Linked DNA regions of Homo sapiens: region 1 is linked to region 2. Evidence: fine-mapped QTL for protein levels in blood plasma. Region 2 holds a variant in brackets. A gene starts in the other region. All regions are shown on their forward strands.

Region 1 (8,304 bases), not on the chromosome of region 2:
AAACTGGACCCCTTCCTTACACCTTATACAAAAATTAACTCAAGATGGATTAAAGACTTAAAGGCAAGACATAAAACCATAAAAACCCTAGAAGAAAACCCAGGCAATACCATTCAGGAGATAAGCATGAGCAAAGTCTTCATGACTAAAACACCAAAAGCAATGGCAACAAAAGCCAAAATTGACAAGCGGGATCTAATTAAACTAAAGAGCTTCTTCACAGCAAAAGAAACTATCGTCAGAGTGAACAGGCAACCTACAGAATGGGACAAAATTTTTGCAATCTATCCACCCAACAAAGGGCTAATATCCAGAATCTACAAGGACCTTAAAAACATTTACAAGAAAAAAAAATCCCATCAAAAAGTGAGTGAAGGATATGAACAGACACTTCTCAAAAGAAGACATTTATGTGATCAACAAACATATGAAAAAAAGCTCATCATCACTGGTCATTAGAGAAATGCAAATCATAACCACAATGAGATACCATCACATGCCAGTTAGAATGTCAATCATTAAAAAGTCAGGAAACAACAGATGCTGGAAAGGATGTAGAGAAATAGGAACACTTTTACACTGTTGGTGGGAGGAGTATAAATTAGTTCAACCGTTGTGGAAGACAGTGTGGTGATTCCTCAAGGATCTAGAATCAGAAATACCATTTGACCCAACAATCCCATTACCGGGTATATAAGGATTATAAATCATTCTATTGTAAAGAAACATGTACACGTTATGTTTACTGCAGCACTATTTGCAATAGCAAAGACTTCAACCAACCCAAATGCCCATCAATAATAGACTGGATAAAGAAAACGTGGCATATATACACCATGGAATACTATGCAGCCATAAAAAGGAATGAGTTCATGTCCGTTGCAGGGACGTGGATGAAGCTGGAAGCCATCACTCTCAGCAAACTAACACAGGAACAGAAAACCAAACACTGCATGCTCTCACTCGTAAGTGGGAGTTGAACAATGAGTACACATGGAAACAGGGAGGGGAACATCACACACTGGGGCCTGTCGGTGGATGGCAGGCAAGGGGAGGGAGAGCATTAGGACAAATACCTAATGTAGATGACGAGTTGATGGGTGCAGCAAACCACCATGGCACATGTATACCTATGTAACAAACCTGCACGCTCTGCACATGTATCTCAGAACTTAAAGAATAATAATAAAAATAAAAGATACCTTTTCCAATTAAAAAAAAGAAAAAAAACTCTTTAGAAGTCAATATTTTGTTTTCACAAGGGGGGATCCATTTCCTGCCCATCACTCAGGATCATTCCTGATCAAGGCCCCTCATTCATCAGGCACCAAATCACAGGCAAGAAATTGGTCTACTCTACTTCATTGCTGAAAAGAAAGCCTCCAAGAAAGAAAGAGAAAAAGCCCTTGAAGCTGCCCCTGCTTGCTAGGGATGGCCAGTGAGCTGGATGAAACAGCTGCAGAGCTTGGATATCTAAAGATTGATTTTATTTATTTCCACTGAGCCACTGAGGTTTTTCAGGTGTAGAGTAAATCCAAAGCCCATTAACTCCAAAGCCATTTTTCAAGGAAAACACAAAAATGAATAATCGCTTGCTGATAATTCCTTTAAATTCCCGCCAGAGTTATGAAATTATTCTTACTACAGAAACAATCATTAAACCACGTCAGACAAACACCTCTGAGGTCAATAATATTCCAAATTTATTCTGCCGAGAATTTTTTAAAACTTCGTATCTGCCACATGTGCAACTCAGGCATTCTTGGAAACCATCCCTGCGGTAGCATATCTTTACTTGGAAGCAGTGGGAAAACTTGGAAGAATATTTGGAGAAATATCCAGACTCTGAGGTCTTTCCAGCATTCCCAATCTGCCCTTCTTTTTTTTTTTTTTTTGAGACACAGTCTCACTCTGTTGCCCAGGTTGGAGTGCAGTGGCATGATCTCTGCCCATTGCAACCTTTGTCTCCTGTGTTCAAGCAATTCTCATGCCTCAGCTTCCTGAGTAGCTGAGACTACAAACACCATCCACCATGGCTGGCTAATTTTTTGTATTTTTAGTAAAGACAGGTTTTCACCATGTTGGCCAGGCTGGTCTTGAACTCCTGACCTCAAGTGATCTGCCTGCCTCAGTCTCCCAAAGTGCTGGGATTACAAGTGTGAGCCACTGTACCCGGCCCTATTTCCTAATAATAAAAAACAGTAACTTCTACTCACTGAGTACCTACAGTGATTTAGTCATTCTTCTAAGCAGTTTAGATACATGAACTCATTTAATTCACACGACAATTCCCTAAAGTACACATGATTAGTATCCTGCTCTTACCCTAGCAGAGAGTGGTTAAGTAAGTTGTCCATGGTATCACAGCTAGTCAGTCACAGAGCCATCATCCAAATGCAGATATCCTGAATTCAGGTTCTACATTAGACTAACCCACCAGGAATGGAGCAGGAAAGAACAGGGAAGACTCCACATTTTTGGCCTCTATTTGGTAATTATAGTTAACTTTTTAGGTAATTATAGACCAATTATCCTAGATGGGCACTTAGAGACTTTGCAGGACAGCAAGAGCTGTCTCTAATCCTGTGCCCATGACAGACATCACCAGTCAACCACAACACAGTATTTAACTAACGCAAGTCAACTCCTCAGAATCTTTAACATTCTTGTTTGTGCTACTGTACCAATCAATCAATTTGATATGAGAGTGTGCAGGAAAAAACAGGAAACAGGTTTGCAGTACCTCCACACCAGTATTCAATGCTGTAATCCGCTGCAGTGACTCCATTAAAGACTTTGCCTCCCTTATACCCTCTCCAACTAGGGTGCCTAGTGTTATGAACAAAGGGATATGTATAGGTTCTTGTGTTGCCTCTCTCTTTGATATTTTTAGCCATCAGATACCTTGTCTGCAATGTGTGCTCAGAGAGTGAGGGGGGAACTAGATGATTGATTTTCCAAATGTGTTCCCTAAATGTGTTCCCTGGGGAATAAGGGCACGAGAGGCTGCCTATTCTATTTCAAACAAATCCCCTTCACTACAGTGTATTTGATGAGTTGGGGTTTGTTTTAATTCCATTTGGAAAAGGGCTTTAGCAGCTAAGCAAATGGTTTTAAAGTGCCTCAGAAGTCAAGATTAATAGAAACTATCCAGTTCTGATGTCCTATCATGCTAAAATTTCAGGGACTAAGATTCTGTGATCATTACATTGAAACACAGCAGCAAAGCTGTGGTGTGTTGTCCTTCCTGGTTCAGAGATGCAACTATGTGCAGGGCTGCTGAGCTCTCTCTGCATCTGGGTGGGAGCCTAATGGAAGTTTTGGGGCTCCTTCCTGGTCTCCAAAATCCTCAAGACCACCATGTGAACACAGGAATCAAGGAAGGTTCTTAGATCGACTCATCCCCCAGGCCTTTGGTTTCCTTGCTCCTTTCCCCAACTACAGGTGTTTCATTTCAACTCATCCCCTAGGGCCTTGGTTTTCTTGCTCTCTTCCCCCACTACAGATGTTTAACTTCATTTCATAACCACATATTCCCCTCCTTTTCCAAGGCAAGATCCAGATGGATTAAAAAATGTACCAAGTCCCTCCTACTAGCTTGCCTCTCTTCTGTTCTGCTTGACTTCCTAGGATCTGGAATCTGGTCAGCAATCAGGAATCCCTTCATCGTGACCCCCGCATGGGCAAAGGCTTCCCTGGAATCTCCCACACTGTCTGCTCCCTATAAAAGGCAGGCAGATGGGCCAGAGGAGCAGAGAGGCTGAGACCAACCCAGAAACCACCACCTCTCACGCCAAAGCTCACACCTTCAGCCTCCAACATGAAGGTCTCCGCAGCACTTCTGTGGCTGCTGCTCATAGCAGCTGCCTTCAGCCCCCAGGGGCTCGCTGGGCCAGGTAAGCCCCCCAACTCCTTACAGGAAAGGTAAGGTAACCACCTCCAGAGCTACTAGGTCAGCAAGAATCTTTACAGACTCACTGCAAATTCTCCATTTGAAAAATAGGGAAACAGGTTTTGTGGGTGGACAAGAAATGCCTCAACCTCACATCCAGTCACTGGAAGAGCCAGAACTAGAAAGCTCCCGAGTCTTTTCCCCACATTCAAGAGGGTTGCTGGGTGCATCCATACCCAGCTATCCTTACAGTGTTTGGGAATGGGGAATGGCTCTGTCTTACTGTGGGCATGGTGGGCATTTTTGGCAGTGGGAGAGAAGGAAAATCTGTTGATTAGAAGCTCAGTATGTTAATTCGACTCCAGGACAGCTTTCAGAGACAGTGGCTAAGAGAAGAACGAGGTCCCAGGGGGATCTCTTGAGGTGACTTATTTTGACACTCTTTGGGAAAGTTATCTAGGAGATTTGTTCCATAACTCATTTTCCCATACTCTGGTGACAAATTTACTGAGTGTATCGGTCCCACTGAGCCAGTGCATAGCATGGTAACAAACAGTTCTAAATTATCAATGACTTAACAGAATTAACTAAATTAACAAAAGTTACTTTCTCACTTGTACTAAATATCTATAATGTATGGGCTCAGGCTTCTGCATTTTATACTCAGGATTCTAGACTGATGGAGAAGTTGCCCATGTGGGGGAACATTGATGGATACTGTGATAAAGCAGAAGAAAGCTCTCAGGAGTCTTGCATAGGCAATGCACTGTGGCTCAAAAATGACACCCATCACTTTGTCTCCTTCTTTATTGATCAAAACTAATTAATGCCTCCAACCAAACAAAAGTGGCCAAGAAATGCAAGTCTACCTTGTGTCTCAAAACAGAGGATGGAGAATATTTGGTGAAAATTACCATGACCATCACATGGCCACGTAGGTCTTTATAATGACAGAGCTAGCATTTGTCACATTGACCAAGCTTTGTCCATACACTCTACAGTAATGATGAGTCCTCAGTGCACAGGGGAGGATGCTGAAGACACAGGACAGCATCCTCCAGACACATAAGACTTCAGAGCAGAGGGATTCTCCCTCCACCTCTCGCAATTCCTTGCTTTCTCCTAACTTCCTTTACAAAGTCATGCTTGGAAATGTCTATGTATCATCATGTGGCTCATTTTTTTCTCTGTTCATTTTTTTTCCCCAAAATTCAGCTTCTGTCCCAACCACCTGCTGCTTTAACCTGGCCAATAGGAAGATACCCCTTCAGCGACTAGAGAGCTACAGGAGAATCACCAGTGGCAAATGTCCCCAGAAAGCTGTGATGTAAGTAAATAAAGTTCACCCTCCCCTAGACAAAAAAATAATGTCTAGGGCACAGAGTCAAGAACTGTGTCACAGTTGCTGGGAGTCATAGACTCTGATAGTTTGACCTCTATGGTCCAATTCATTAATTTTCACAAGTGAGTGTTCACTCCCAGCTCCCTGCCTGGGAGATTGCTGTAGTCATATCAATTTCTTCAAGTCAAGAGCAAAGATGGTTTTACTGGGCCTTTAAGAGCAGCAACTAACCCAAGAGTCTCATCCTTCCTCCTCTCCGTAGCAACCCTTTGTCCAGGGGCAGATGGTCCTTAAATATTTAGGGTCAAATGGGCAGAATTTTCAAAAACAATCCTTCCAATTGCATCCTGTATCTCCCACAGCTTCAAGACCAAACTGGCCAAGGATATCTGTGCCGACCCCAAGAAGAAGTGGGTGCAGGATTCCATGAAGTATCTGGACCAAAAATCTCCAACTCCAAAGCCATAAATAATCACCATTTTTGAAACCAAACCAGAGCCTGAGTGTTGCCTAATTTGTTTTCCCTTCTTACAATGCATTCTGAGGTAACCTCATTATCAGTCCAAAGGGCATGGGTTTTATTATATATATATATTTTTTTTTTTAAAAAAAAAACGTATTGCATTTAATTTATTGAGGCTTTAAAACTTATCCTCCATGAATATCAGTTATTTTTAAACTGTAAAGCTTTGTGCAGATTCTTTACCCCCTGGGAGCCCCAATTCGATCCCCTGTCACGTGTGGGCAATGTTCCCCCTCTCCTCTCTTCCTCCCTGGAATCTTGTAAAGGTCCTGGCAAAGATGATCAGTATGAAAATGTCATTGTTCTTGTGAACCCAAAGTGTGACTCATTAAATGGAAGTAAATGTTGTTTTAGGAATACATAAAGTATGTGCATATTTTATTATAGTCACTAGTTGTAATTTTTTTGTGGGAAATCCACACTGAGCTGAGGGGGACAAAGATGGCTGTGGCCAAGAGGGGCTTGGTTAAGGGGGTGGGAACTATGTCCCTGGGAAATGAGTTTTTGGCTTAGCTGGTCTTCATTGAAATGCAGGGTGAAACTGACAAACCCATTCCAGCCCTCTATTCCCATTTTCAACAGTATTTCCCAGACCCCAAACTTCAGCCACGAAAATATCTGGAGCTTTGCCACCATTCCTTTCCTCCCCACCTCATACTTGCCTCTCCTGGGACCTATTTTAACAGCCCTGTGGTATCTCCCTCTACCCGACCCTGCTCCTCGGTCTTCCAACCCAGACTAGGCAGACATGACAGACACTGGAAATCAGAGGAAGGCTAGGTGACCTTTGACCAGAGGTTTAGGTGCAGGTTTTACAGGTGTGGTGGAGCTTAAAGTGGGTCTTGTGCATGCACAAAGTGGAGAGGCTCTGCTGGAGGTATTTCAGTCTAGGTAGAGGAGAAGGGGTGTTGCTTGGGCAAAATCCAAGAAGTAGGAATGATCATGCTGCATTTACCCAGTTGGGTGGGAGCCCATCAAAAGATGTCAGTGTTGGAGTATGTGTGAAATGGTGGGGAAATTTGGAAAGAAGTTTGAGACCAGGCTGTCTAGGTGGGGAGTTTGTGCTCCATGTAAGGTGAACATATGGTTCTTCCCAGCCCAGTTAGGATGCTTTTGAGAGCAGAAAAGTGGTATTATTCATAATTATTCTGGAACAACGGATATAAATTAACACTGTCCTAAGCAAACTGGAGCATGTGGTCACTCTAGGAATAGAATGCATTGCAAGTTTTGATTCAGTGGAGAGAAGTGCCATGACCACACTATGAGGGGCTTCAGGAAGGGCAGCCAGGTGGCCATGGGCTGAATTGGGAGGAGAAGGGAGAAGCACTTAGCTCACTATTGCAGTGTATGGAAGATATGGAACTGGGGCATTGGTAGTTGGGAGGGGAGAAGATAATTGGAAGAATGGCTGAGGCAGGGTGGAATGCCAAATGTTGTGGTTGAAGAAGTAGAACCAATGACATGGAAACTTTCTAAATGCCAAAGCTGCAATTAAAGGTTAGCTTCTTAGACCCAGAAAATTAATTTCTCTCTGTCACTGTTTACTCACACCTTAACTTTACTAGCTTGAGAGCTTTCAATCAAATGGACAGGACCTCATCTTCCTGTATAAGCAACTTAAATCAGGATTCCCTTTCAGCATACAAAATCAGCTTGCGTTTCCATTGGTCACATTACCTATGTACCTGAACGCAGAGACCAACTATGTCCCCAAGGGTAGAAAAGGGTCACAGGTGCCCTGCTGGTATAACTCTGCATGGTCTAAGGCCATTGATCTGGAGGGCCAATGGCCTACTGTGTCATGCATGCCCAGCAGGGTCGCTGCATGCAAAGCTCCCAGAGGCACCATTCATAAGGCTGTCCCCCTTGGACTGTGTGGTGGCAATGGCACAAGGCAATATAAAGAACAGAATGAGACATTAGGAAGGGCACTGATCTAGGAGGCAGATGACCTCAGTTTCATCACAGACAGAGAACTGGTCTCTGTCACTGTGTTACTTTTGGCTTTAGTTACCCCATCCATAATAGGGGTATATTAATATCTTTTAAGGGATCTGACCAATGACCCACCAAGATCTCCTGTTCTGAGAGCACTACCTCTTGGAAAGCATCACTACCTCCACCCATTGAGGGAGGGAATGTTGTCAGAGGGTTCCACACTCACAAGCCCAAGTCGGACAGGGGCCAGGATAACTGGCACACTTACTCTATTTCTAGAAGATTTCTCTGTGAGAGCCGCAAGTAGAAGCATGGATCCCTAGAACCATCAGAGAGCTTTTTGTATCTACTACAGAAGGGCTCCCACTCAGAGCAATCACTGGCCCTCACTCTGAGTACAAAAAACCTCTCTGCCTCTCCTATAGCCTAGCAGACTTTAGCCCTAAACATCAATCAGGATGTACCTCCAGAGGTCAGCATGTCCAGGAGGCATGGGATGGCCACAGAATAGCTCACTGGGATCAGTAGACCCTCAGGTTTCAGGTCAGTCTTCACGAGGAGATCAAGAAGGGGAGTAGAGGGAAGAGGTGCCCTCTGTTTGTGAAG
Region 2 (8,339 bases):
ATAGGGAAATACATGGGCCTTAATATCACTAGAAATTTAAAGAGGCAGAACCAATTTATTCAGCCAGAAATTATGTCTATGAATTTTGTACTTAGAATTGGTATTAAATCATTGTATGGTTTAATGGTAGTGAAATGAAACACAAAACTTTGGAGACTGAGATTTTTGGAAAGATAGAGATGACCCTCCCCTTTCCTCTAGTGGCAACTGCACCAAGAACAGCCTAATACCAGAAAGCCTCCATCTCTTAAGATGTCATGACCCTTAATTGTTAGAAATTCATTGCCATCAGGCTAGGCGTGGTGGCTCATGCCTGTAATCCCAGCACTTTGGGAGGCTGAGGTGGGCAGATCACTTGAGTCCAGGAATTTGAGACCAGCTAGGCCAACACAGTGAGGACCTGTCTCTAATAAAAATACAAAAATTGGCTGGGTATAGTGGTGGGCACCTGTAATCCCAGCTACTCAGGAGGCTGAGGCATAAGAATCACTTGAACTGGGGAGGCAGAGGTTGCAGTGAGCTGAGATTGCGCCACTGCACTCCAGCCTGGGTGACTGGGCAACAGAGCAATACTCTGTCTCAAAAAAAGAATAAAAAAAAAAGAAAGAAAAAGAAAAAGAAAATGTAGTGCTATCAAATTAAGAAAATGCAAAAACCTGCACCAGTTCATCTATCAGATTAGGGCACTCCATCACCGCATACGGAACGCACAGCAATGAAATACTCTAGACCAGTGCTGTCCAATAAAAACAGGTGAGCCACCATATGATCCGTATGTGTCATTTTAATTTTTTTTTTGAGACAGAGTCTCACTGTCGACCAGGCTGGAGTGTAGTGGCATGATCATGGCTCACTGCAGCCTCAACTTCCTAGGCTCAAGCGATTCTCCCACCTTAGCCTCCTGAGTAGCTGGGACTACAGGCACATGCCACCACACCTGGCTAATTTTTCTATTTTTATTTTTTTGAGATAGGGTCTGACTCTGTTGCCCAGGCTGGAGTACAGTGGCACAATCTCAGCTCACTACAACCTCTGCCTCCTGGGCTTAAGTGATCCTCCCACCTCAGCCTCCCGAGTAGCTGGGACTACAGGCATGTGCCACCACACCCAGCTAATTTTTGTGTTTTTTGTAGAGATGAGGTTTCTCCACATTGCCTAGGCTAGTCTTGAACTCCTGGGCTCAAGCGATCTGCCCGCCTTGGCCTCCCAAAGTGCTGGGATTACAGGCATGAGCTACTGTGCTTGGGTTAATTTATAAATTTTTTTGTAGAGATGAGGGCTCACTAAGTTGCCCAGCCTTAAATTTTCTAATAGTCAACATTAAAGCCCTAAAGAGAAACAAGTGAAATTAATTTGAATGATGTATTTATTTAACCCAAAATATAAACAAATTATCTCAAGATGTAATCAACATAACAATGAGATATTTTGTTTATTTTTATTTTTTATTTTTTAAAGTATTTTTTATTTCAATAGGTTTTGGGGGAACAGATAGTGTTTGATTACATGCATAAGTTCTTTAGTGGTGATTTCTGAGATTTTGGTGCACCCATCACCCAAGCAGTGTACACTATACAATTATTAATTATTAATGAGATATTTTACATTCCGTTATTTGTACTGTCTTTGAAATCTGACATGTGCTTTATGCTTGTACTTCTCAGTTCAGACTAGTCACATTTCAGGTGCTTCATGGCCAAATATGGCTAGTGACTACTGTACTGCCCAGTTCTAGAATAGGATTTGACCACACATACTACTTAGTGGGAATGACGATTTGAGAGATCATTTAAAAAAAAAACTGCATTACAAAACCAGACTTCTGTGGCTTTATTGATCATATTAATATTGTATTTTAAGGCCATTTTCTTTTATTGGATACAGATAAACATATTAGTGATTATGTGTGTTTTTTTAGAAACCCAGATTTTCAACCCTGTGTTGAGCAAGTCTTACAAGAGCCATTTTTTCAACAGGATGTGTTCACTTTGTGTCTCTGTGTCACATTTTGGTAATTCATGCAATATTTCAAACATTTTCATTATTTTTATTTTTATTTTTTTTGAGACAGAGTTTCGCTCTTGTTGCCCAGGCTGGAGTGCAGTGGTGCGATCTTGGCTCACCATAACCTCCACCTTCTAGGTTCAAGCAATTCAGCTCAGCCTCCCGAGTAGCTGGGATTACAGGCATGCGCCTCCACGCCCGGCTAATTTTGTATTTTTAGTAGAGATGGGGTTTTGCCATGTTGGTCAGGCTGGTCTCGAACTCCTGACCTCAGGTGATCCACCTGCCTCGGCCTCCCAAAGTACCGGGATTACAGGCGTGAGCCACTGTGCCCAGCCACATTATCATTATTATACCGCTATGGTGATCTGTGATCAATGATCTTTGATGTTACTATGCAATTGTTTTGGGTGTCCATATAAGACGAGAACCTAATGGATAAATGTTGTGTGTTTTCTTTTTTTTCGGTAGGGAAGACAGGGTCTCACTCTGTTGCTTAGACTACAGTACAGTCACACGATCATGCCTCACTGCATCCTTGACATCCTGGGCTCAAGTGATCCACCCACCTCAGCCCCACAAATATGTAGGACTATAGACTCGAGCCACTATGTCTGGGTAATTTTTTTTATTTTAATTTTTTAATTAATTAATTAATTTATTTATTTACTTATTTTGAGATGGAGTCTCACTCTGTCGCCAGGCTGCAGTACAATGGTGTGATCTCGGCTCACTGCAACCTCCACCTCTCGGGTTCAAGTGATTCTTCTGCCTCAGCCTCCTGAGTAGCTGGGACTACAGGTGCGCACCACCATGCCCAGCTAATTTTTTGTATTTTTAGTAGAGATGGGGTTTCACCATGTTGGCCAGGATGGTCTCGATCTCTTGACCTCGTGATCCACCTGCCTTGGCCTCCCAAAGTGCTGGGATTACAGGCATGAGCCACTGTGCCCGGGCAAATTTTTTTTTTATTATTATTTTTTGAGACAGTTTCTCACTCTGCTACCCAGGCTGGAGTGCCAGTGGCCCGATCTCGGCTCACTGCAGCCTCTGCCTCCCAGGTTGAAGTGATCCTCCTGCCTCAGCTTCCCGAGTAGCTGGAACTGCAGGCACGCACCACCACCCTTGGCTAATTTTTGCACTTTTTTGGTAGAGATGGGGTTTTGCCTTGTTGGTCTTGAACTCCTAGGCTCAAGCGATCCACCCAACTCGGTCTCCCAAAGTGCTGGGATTACAAGCATGAGCCAGCACGATCGGCCTGAATTTCTTAATGTTTTCCTTCA[C/CTGTT]TGGGCATTTAGGACCTTGTTAAAGAAGGCCTTTCATCTCCAGAGCCCATGAAGATGCTCTCCCATAGCATCTTCTAGGCTTTAAAACATTCAGAGCTTATTTGCTGTGTGGTGTTGGTGAGGGCTCTAATTTTTCTCCCCGCAACCCAGATAACCAGGGTCACCCAGTTAACAGAGCTTTAGAGTCCACGTTGCTTTCCGTTGCTCACGTCTTCACTGACTGCTCTGTTCATCTGCCTATCTCAGAATCACACCCTTTCTCCAGGACCACTCTCCTTCTGCTGGAAGTACGTTCTTCAGTGAGTTCCTTGAGTCTCACTCTCCTGAGTTTCGTGTTGTGATAAATTCTGTTTCCCATCTGGAAATGCCCTTTACCGTGAGCAGATTCTTGAACAACCATCAATTTCAACTCCTGATTCTAATTTGATGGTGAAGAGTCCCAAGTCACACTCACTGTATCCCATGGCTTCCGGCTCCCACTGTGGCCACTACGAAGTCTACTCTCAGTCTCAGCGTCTGCTCTCTGTAATCTGTGCTTTTTCCTTGGCTGCATTAAAGATCTTCTCTTTGCCTTTGGTGTGCTGCAATTTCATTATGATATGGGTGTGGATTTCTGTGCTTCCTGATTCTGCGTATTCAACCTCCACTGAAATGGGTGACTCGTGGTTCCCAGGTCCCTCCTTCCTCCTTCTGCCCACCCGAGCCTGGGCATCTTACTATGGGGTACAGTTGGGTGAAGGAGCATCATAGAAGCACCCTAGAAGAGATGATTGGTGCATTAGAAGCTGTCTGCCAGGTCTGAGTTGTGTTATGCTTATTCTCTGGGTAGTCTGAGGCAACCCCTGAGAAAGGCAGGTATTACTACAGTCAGAAGAACTGCTCCAGGAATGCATTCCTCCCCAGAAAAATCTCATATCTAAACTGAGAGTAATTCACGTATTATGGAACAATTTTCCAAACATATATATAAATTACAAACCACACCTCTCTCCCACCTCCAAAGTTGTGATGAGATAAAAGCAAAACTGTAGCACCAGCAAAACTAAATAAAACTTTGTAATAAGGCTTTAAGTGCCCTGAATCTCTTCCAAGGATCAAGATGAACCCTAGAGCTGCAATTCCACAATCCACCAGATCCTGGGACTCAGGCCATATCAACATGGTTATCTAGCTGGCATTCCAACCCCAAGAGGTTTCTTACTTGTCTGTTGCTTTCTTATTATCAAGTCCTCACTTAGGTTCTGTGTTCCTTTGCAGCCCAGACCACCCTAGACTCCATACGGCACCTCTATTCCAGCAGTATACCAGGGTCTATTAAAAGAAATCCAGAGAAACAACTCAGATGGAAAGGGCCCTGTGGCGTTCTGTTGACCATTGTCATGACTCTGTGGGGCTCTAGACCATTCTTGAGGATAGGAGGGTGACAAGCCACAAGGTGCACAACCAGCAGTGCACAAGGTGAACTTGAATACAATTCAGAGTCTGCCAAAGCCCTGCGACAGTTTTAGCCAAGAAAGGAAAGGGAGTTACTGTGTGGCATTCAAGATGGACTGAGTGAAGACTACAGATAAGTTTCCTAGGACTGTGTGGAGATGCCAGATAAATAACCTCAGGACTAGTGTATGAAATGGGCTGGGCTAATACTGACTGCTGGACTCTTAAGTCATCATCTTGCTTACTGTCATAGTTTACTGGTGCCTACCAGGAAGGTCCTTCTTCCCCACCTCTGATCACCGTGTTTCTCTTTCAAATGTCTTTTGCAGTGGTTGTCTGACAACTCAATGGTTGGTGTAACACAGGATTTGGCATCTTCCTTAAAGTTATCTGATTGTGTTTATTTCACCCTTGGGACATAATGTGCAAGACCCTAGGATGCTGGAAACATGGCTCTATCCAAGCCCCGAAGGCCTGAGAACCAGGGAAACGGATGGTGTAACTGTCAGTCTAAGGCCAAAGGCCTGAGAAGCAGGGGGGCCACTGGTATTAAGTCCTGGAGTCCAGGGGCTGGGGAGCCTGAAGTTTTTTTTTTTGGAAGATTGGGTTTCACTCTGTCGCCTAGGCTGGAGTGTAGTGGTGCAATCTCAGCTCACTGCAGCTTCACCCTCACAGGCTCAAGTGATCCTCCCACCTCAACCTCCGGAGTAGCTGGGACTACAGGTGCATGCCACCATGCCTGACTAATTTTTGAATATATATATATTTAGAGATGGGGTCTCACTGTGTTGCCCAGGCTGTTCTCAAACTCCTGGGCTTAAGAAGTCCTCTCTTCTCAGCCTCCCAAAGTGTTGGGATTAGAGGCATGAGCCACTGCGACCAGCTGGGAGCCTGCAGTTCTGACAGGAGACTAAGAGTGTATTCCAGCTCCAGCAGATAGATGGATGCAGATCACCTTTTCTCTGTTTTTGTTATCTCCAGGTCCCTGGCAGATTGGATGGTGCCCGCCCACATTAGTCCACTCATACTCTCATGCTGATCACCTCCGGAAACACCTTCACAAACACACCCCACAATAATGCTTTATGAGGTTTCTAGGTATTCCTTAACTCAGTCAAGTTGACATCTAAAATTAACTGTCACACTATTAAATATACGCTGTAGGCAATACATCTATAAAAGGGAGTATACAAAGAGGAAATCAGCCCCCATCTCCCTGGACTTCCATGCCATTTATTTTGAAAGTTAAATTCTGAATTAGCAGAAATCCTTAACATTTGACTTTATGTACAGAAATATGACCCTCTTTATGTATTTTCAGTGTTTACTGGACACTGAAGATACATAAATTTATATTATCAGAAACCTCTTTCAAATAGCCTTCCAAGGTTTGCTAATACAGACTCATCAATCATAGGCCTAAAAGTAAAACCTAAAATTATAAAATTTCTAGGAGAAAACATAAGAGAAAAAAAATCTTTATGACATTAGGGTAAGCAAAGATTTCTTAGTTAAGACACCAAAAGCATAATCCATAAAAGAAAAAGTCAATTACTTGGACTTCACCAAAATTAAGAATGTGTGCTCTTCAAAAGACACTAAGAGAATAAAACACAAGACACAGACTAGGAGAAAATATTTGCAAATCATATATCTGATAAAAGACTTTTTATAAAGGATATGGAAATAATCCTCTGAACTCAATAGTAAGAAAACACACAGCCCAATTTTGTAAAAAATGGGCAAAATATGTGAAAAAACACTTTCATTGAAGAAGATATAGGGATGTCAAGGAAGCATATGAAAATACGTTCAATGTCATTAGTTCATAAGGAAATGCAAACTGAAACCACAATGAGATACTACTTCACATTCATTATAATGGCTAAAAGTAAAAAGACTGACCATACCAAGAACTTAGGAGAATGTGAAACAATTGTAACTCTCATATTTTGTGGGTGGAAATGCAAAAATGGTATGGTCACTTTTGGAAAAACAGTTTGACTGGTTTCTTACACAGTTAAGTATACGCTTACCATTCAACATAGTCACTCTATTCCTAAGTATTTACCCAAGTGAAATGAAAACCTATGTTCACACAAAGATCTGCACGTGAATGTTTGTGGCAGATTTATTTGTTGATTACAAAAAAACTGGAGACAAACCAAATGTCCCTCAGCTACAGAATGGATTAAACTGTGGTGCATCTGTAAATGTTGCTAGAGGGAATGTAATTTGCTGCAGACACTTTGAAAAACTGTTTGGTAGTATTTGCCAAAGTCAAACGTCCTCGAAACATACCCAACAGAAAAGACTTGAATAAGAATGCTCATAGCAGCACATTTGTAATAACTCTGGAATAAAGAGTCTGACTCAATTTTTGATGTTTTACTATGACAGCTTTCAAGCCCCATCACTCCCCTTTCTCATTTTCTCCACACCTGGACATGCCTACAGGTAGCTCATGGTGCTCCCTTCCTTGGTGCAGACGGGCAGTTCAAACCACACAAACTCCAGCCTGTGGGAGAGGGATCCTTCATCCTGGACGCACCTGCCCTCTGCCCAGCCACTATAAAAACCAGAGCCACGTGCCCCTTCTTTTGCTTGAGTGTGGGCCCTGCTGTCCCCAGAAAGCCTCATTACGTGAGTAGTAACTCTTTTCAAATCCTCCTGATGAGTGTGTGGCATCATCAGTCTGGAGCTCCGAATCAATCTTGGGTGGTTTGAAGGGCTGATAACTCCCATCAACAGTGCAGCAGCAAAGCAAACCCCAAATTGGAAACTACTCAAATGCCAAGGCAATAGATGAGGATACAAATACATTTTTTGCATATTTGCCCAATGGAGCCTTTGAAGCAATGAGAATGAATGAACTGCAACTGCACGTCATCTCGCAAACATAATGTTGAACAAATGAAACCAACACAAAAGAATATGTTCTATACGACCGGTTAGCATTTTTAGAAGCTAACTTGTAATGTTAGAAGTCAGGAGAGTTGCTACCATACTTAGGGTGGTAGGTTACTGGAAAGGCGCACAAAGTGAGAACTTTTTGGTACATCAGGCTGTATTTGAAAAGATAAAAATAAATCTGAGTGAGATGGGAGAGGCAGGAGAGGATGATCGGATGCTCCAGCTCTCTGAGTGAAGTTCTGACTCTGCCCTGTTGGGCTGCGGTGTTTAGAATGTGAACCAGTCCCATCCAGTGGACAAATGTAGAAGTGCATGTAAAGGCTTAAAATATAATAGCAAGATGTCTGGTCTGTCTTGGGAGTCTCTGATAGTCGCAGCTAATTTTGGGTGTGGGTGCAGATCCTGGGCTCAGAAATGAAATAGAGCAGGCCGGGCGCAGTGGCTCACGCCTGTAATCCCAGCACTTTGGGAAGCCGAGGCGGGTGGATCACGAGGTCAAGAGATTGAGACCATCCTGGCCAACATGGTGAAACCTCGTCTCTACTAAAAATACAAAAAAAATTAGCCGGGCGTGGTAGCTGGCGCCTGTAGTCCCAGCTACTCGGGAGACTGAGGCAGGAGAATGGCGTGAACCCGGGAGGCGGAGCTTGCAGTGAGCTGAGATCGCGCCAATGCACACCAGCTTGGGCGACAGAGCGAGACTCC

Which allele goes with the higher level. Alleles are on the strand shown, and positions count from the first base shown. The strength of an association depends on the size of the effect and on how common the allele is.
In carriers of allele CTGTT in region 2, the plasma level of the protein whose gene starts at base 3,754 in region 1 tends to be lower than with C alone (moderate association).

What was found. A credible set is the group of variants that fine-mapping cannot tell apart. PIP is the chance, under the fine-mapping model, that this variant and not a neighbour inherited with it causes the effect. Protein levels are from antibody-based Olink assays in UK Biobank. Linkage for the fine-mapping came from a reference panel and not from the study's own genotypes, which makes the PIPs less certain.
Region 1: CCL11 starts here. The variant in region 2 is the best candidate, but not a certain one, in a credible set for the plasma level of the CCL11 protein (UK Biobank, PIP 0.60).

What each region holds. Positions count from the first base shown.
Region 1 is chr17:34,281,989-34,290,292 of GRCh38, forward strand. It overlaps CCL11 (C-C motif chemokine ligand 11), which reads left to right and starts at 3,754. Exons shown (of 3, transcript NM_002986.3): 1 at 3,754-3,896; 2 at 5,108-5,219; 3 at 5,597-6,346. The coding sequence starts at 3,821. The coding sequence ends at 5,702.
Region 2 is chr3:42,831,916-42,840,254 of GRCh38, forward strand. The region is part of intron 2 of ACKR2 (atypical chemokine receptor 2); the gene reads left to right. It overlaps LOC124909373 (a long non-coding RNA gene), which reads right to left. Exons shown (of 2, transcript XR_007095895.1): 2 at 1,816-4,044. Among named protein-coding and RNA genes, the nearest start is that of ACKR2, 27 kb to the left of the region's middle. RefSeq lists an enhancer at 4,702-4,996 and a silencer at 4,702-4,996. The variant C/CTGTT (reference allele first, on the strand shown) is at 3,288.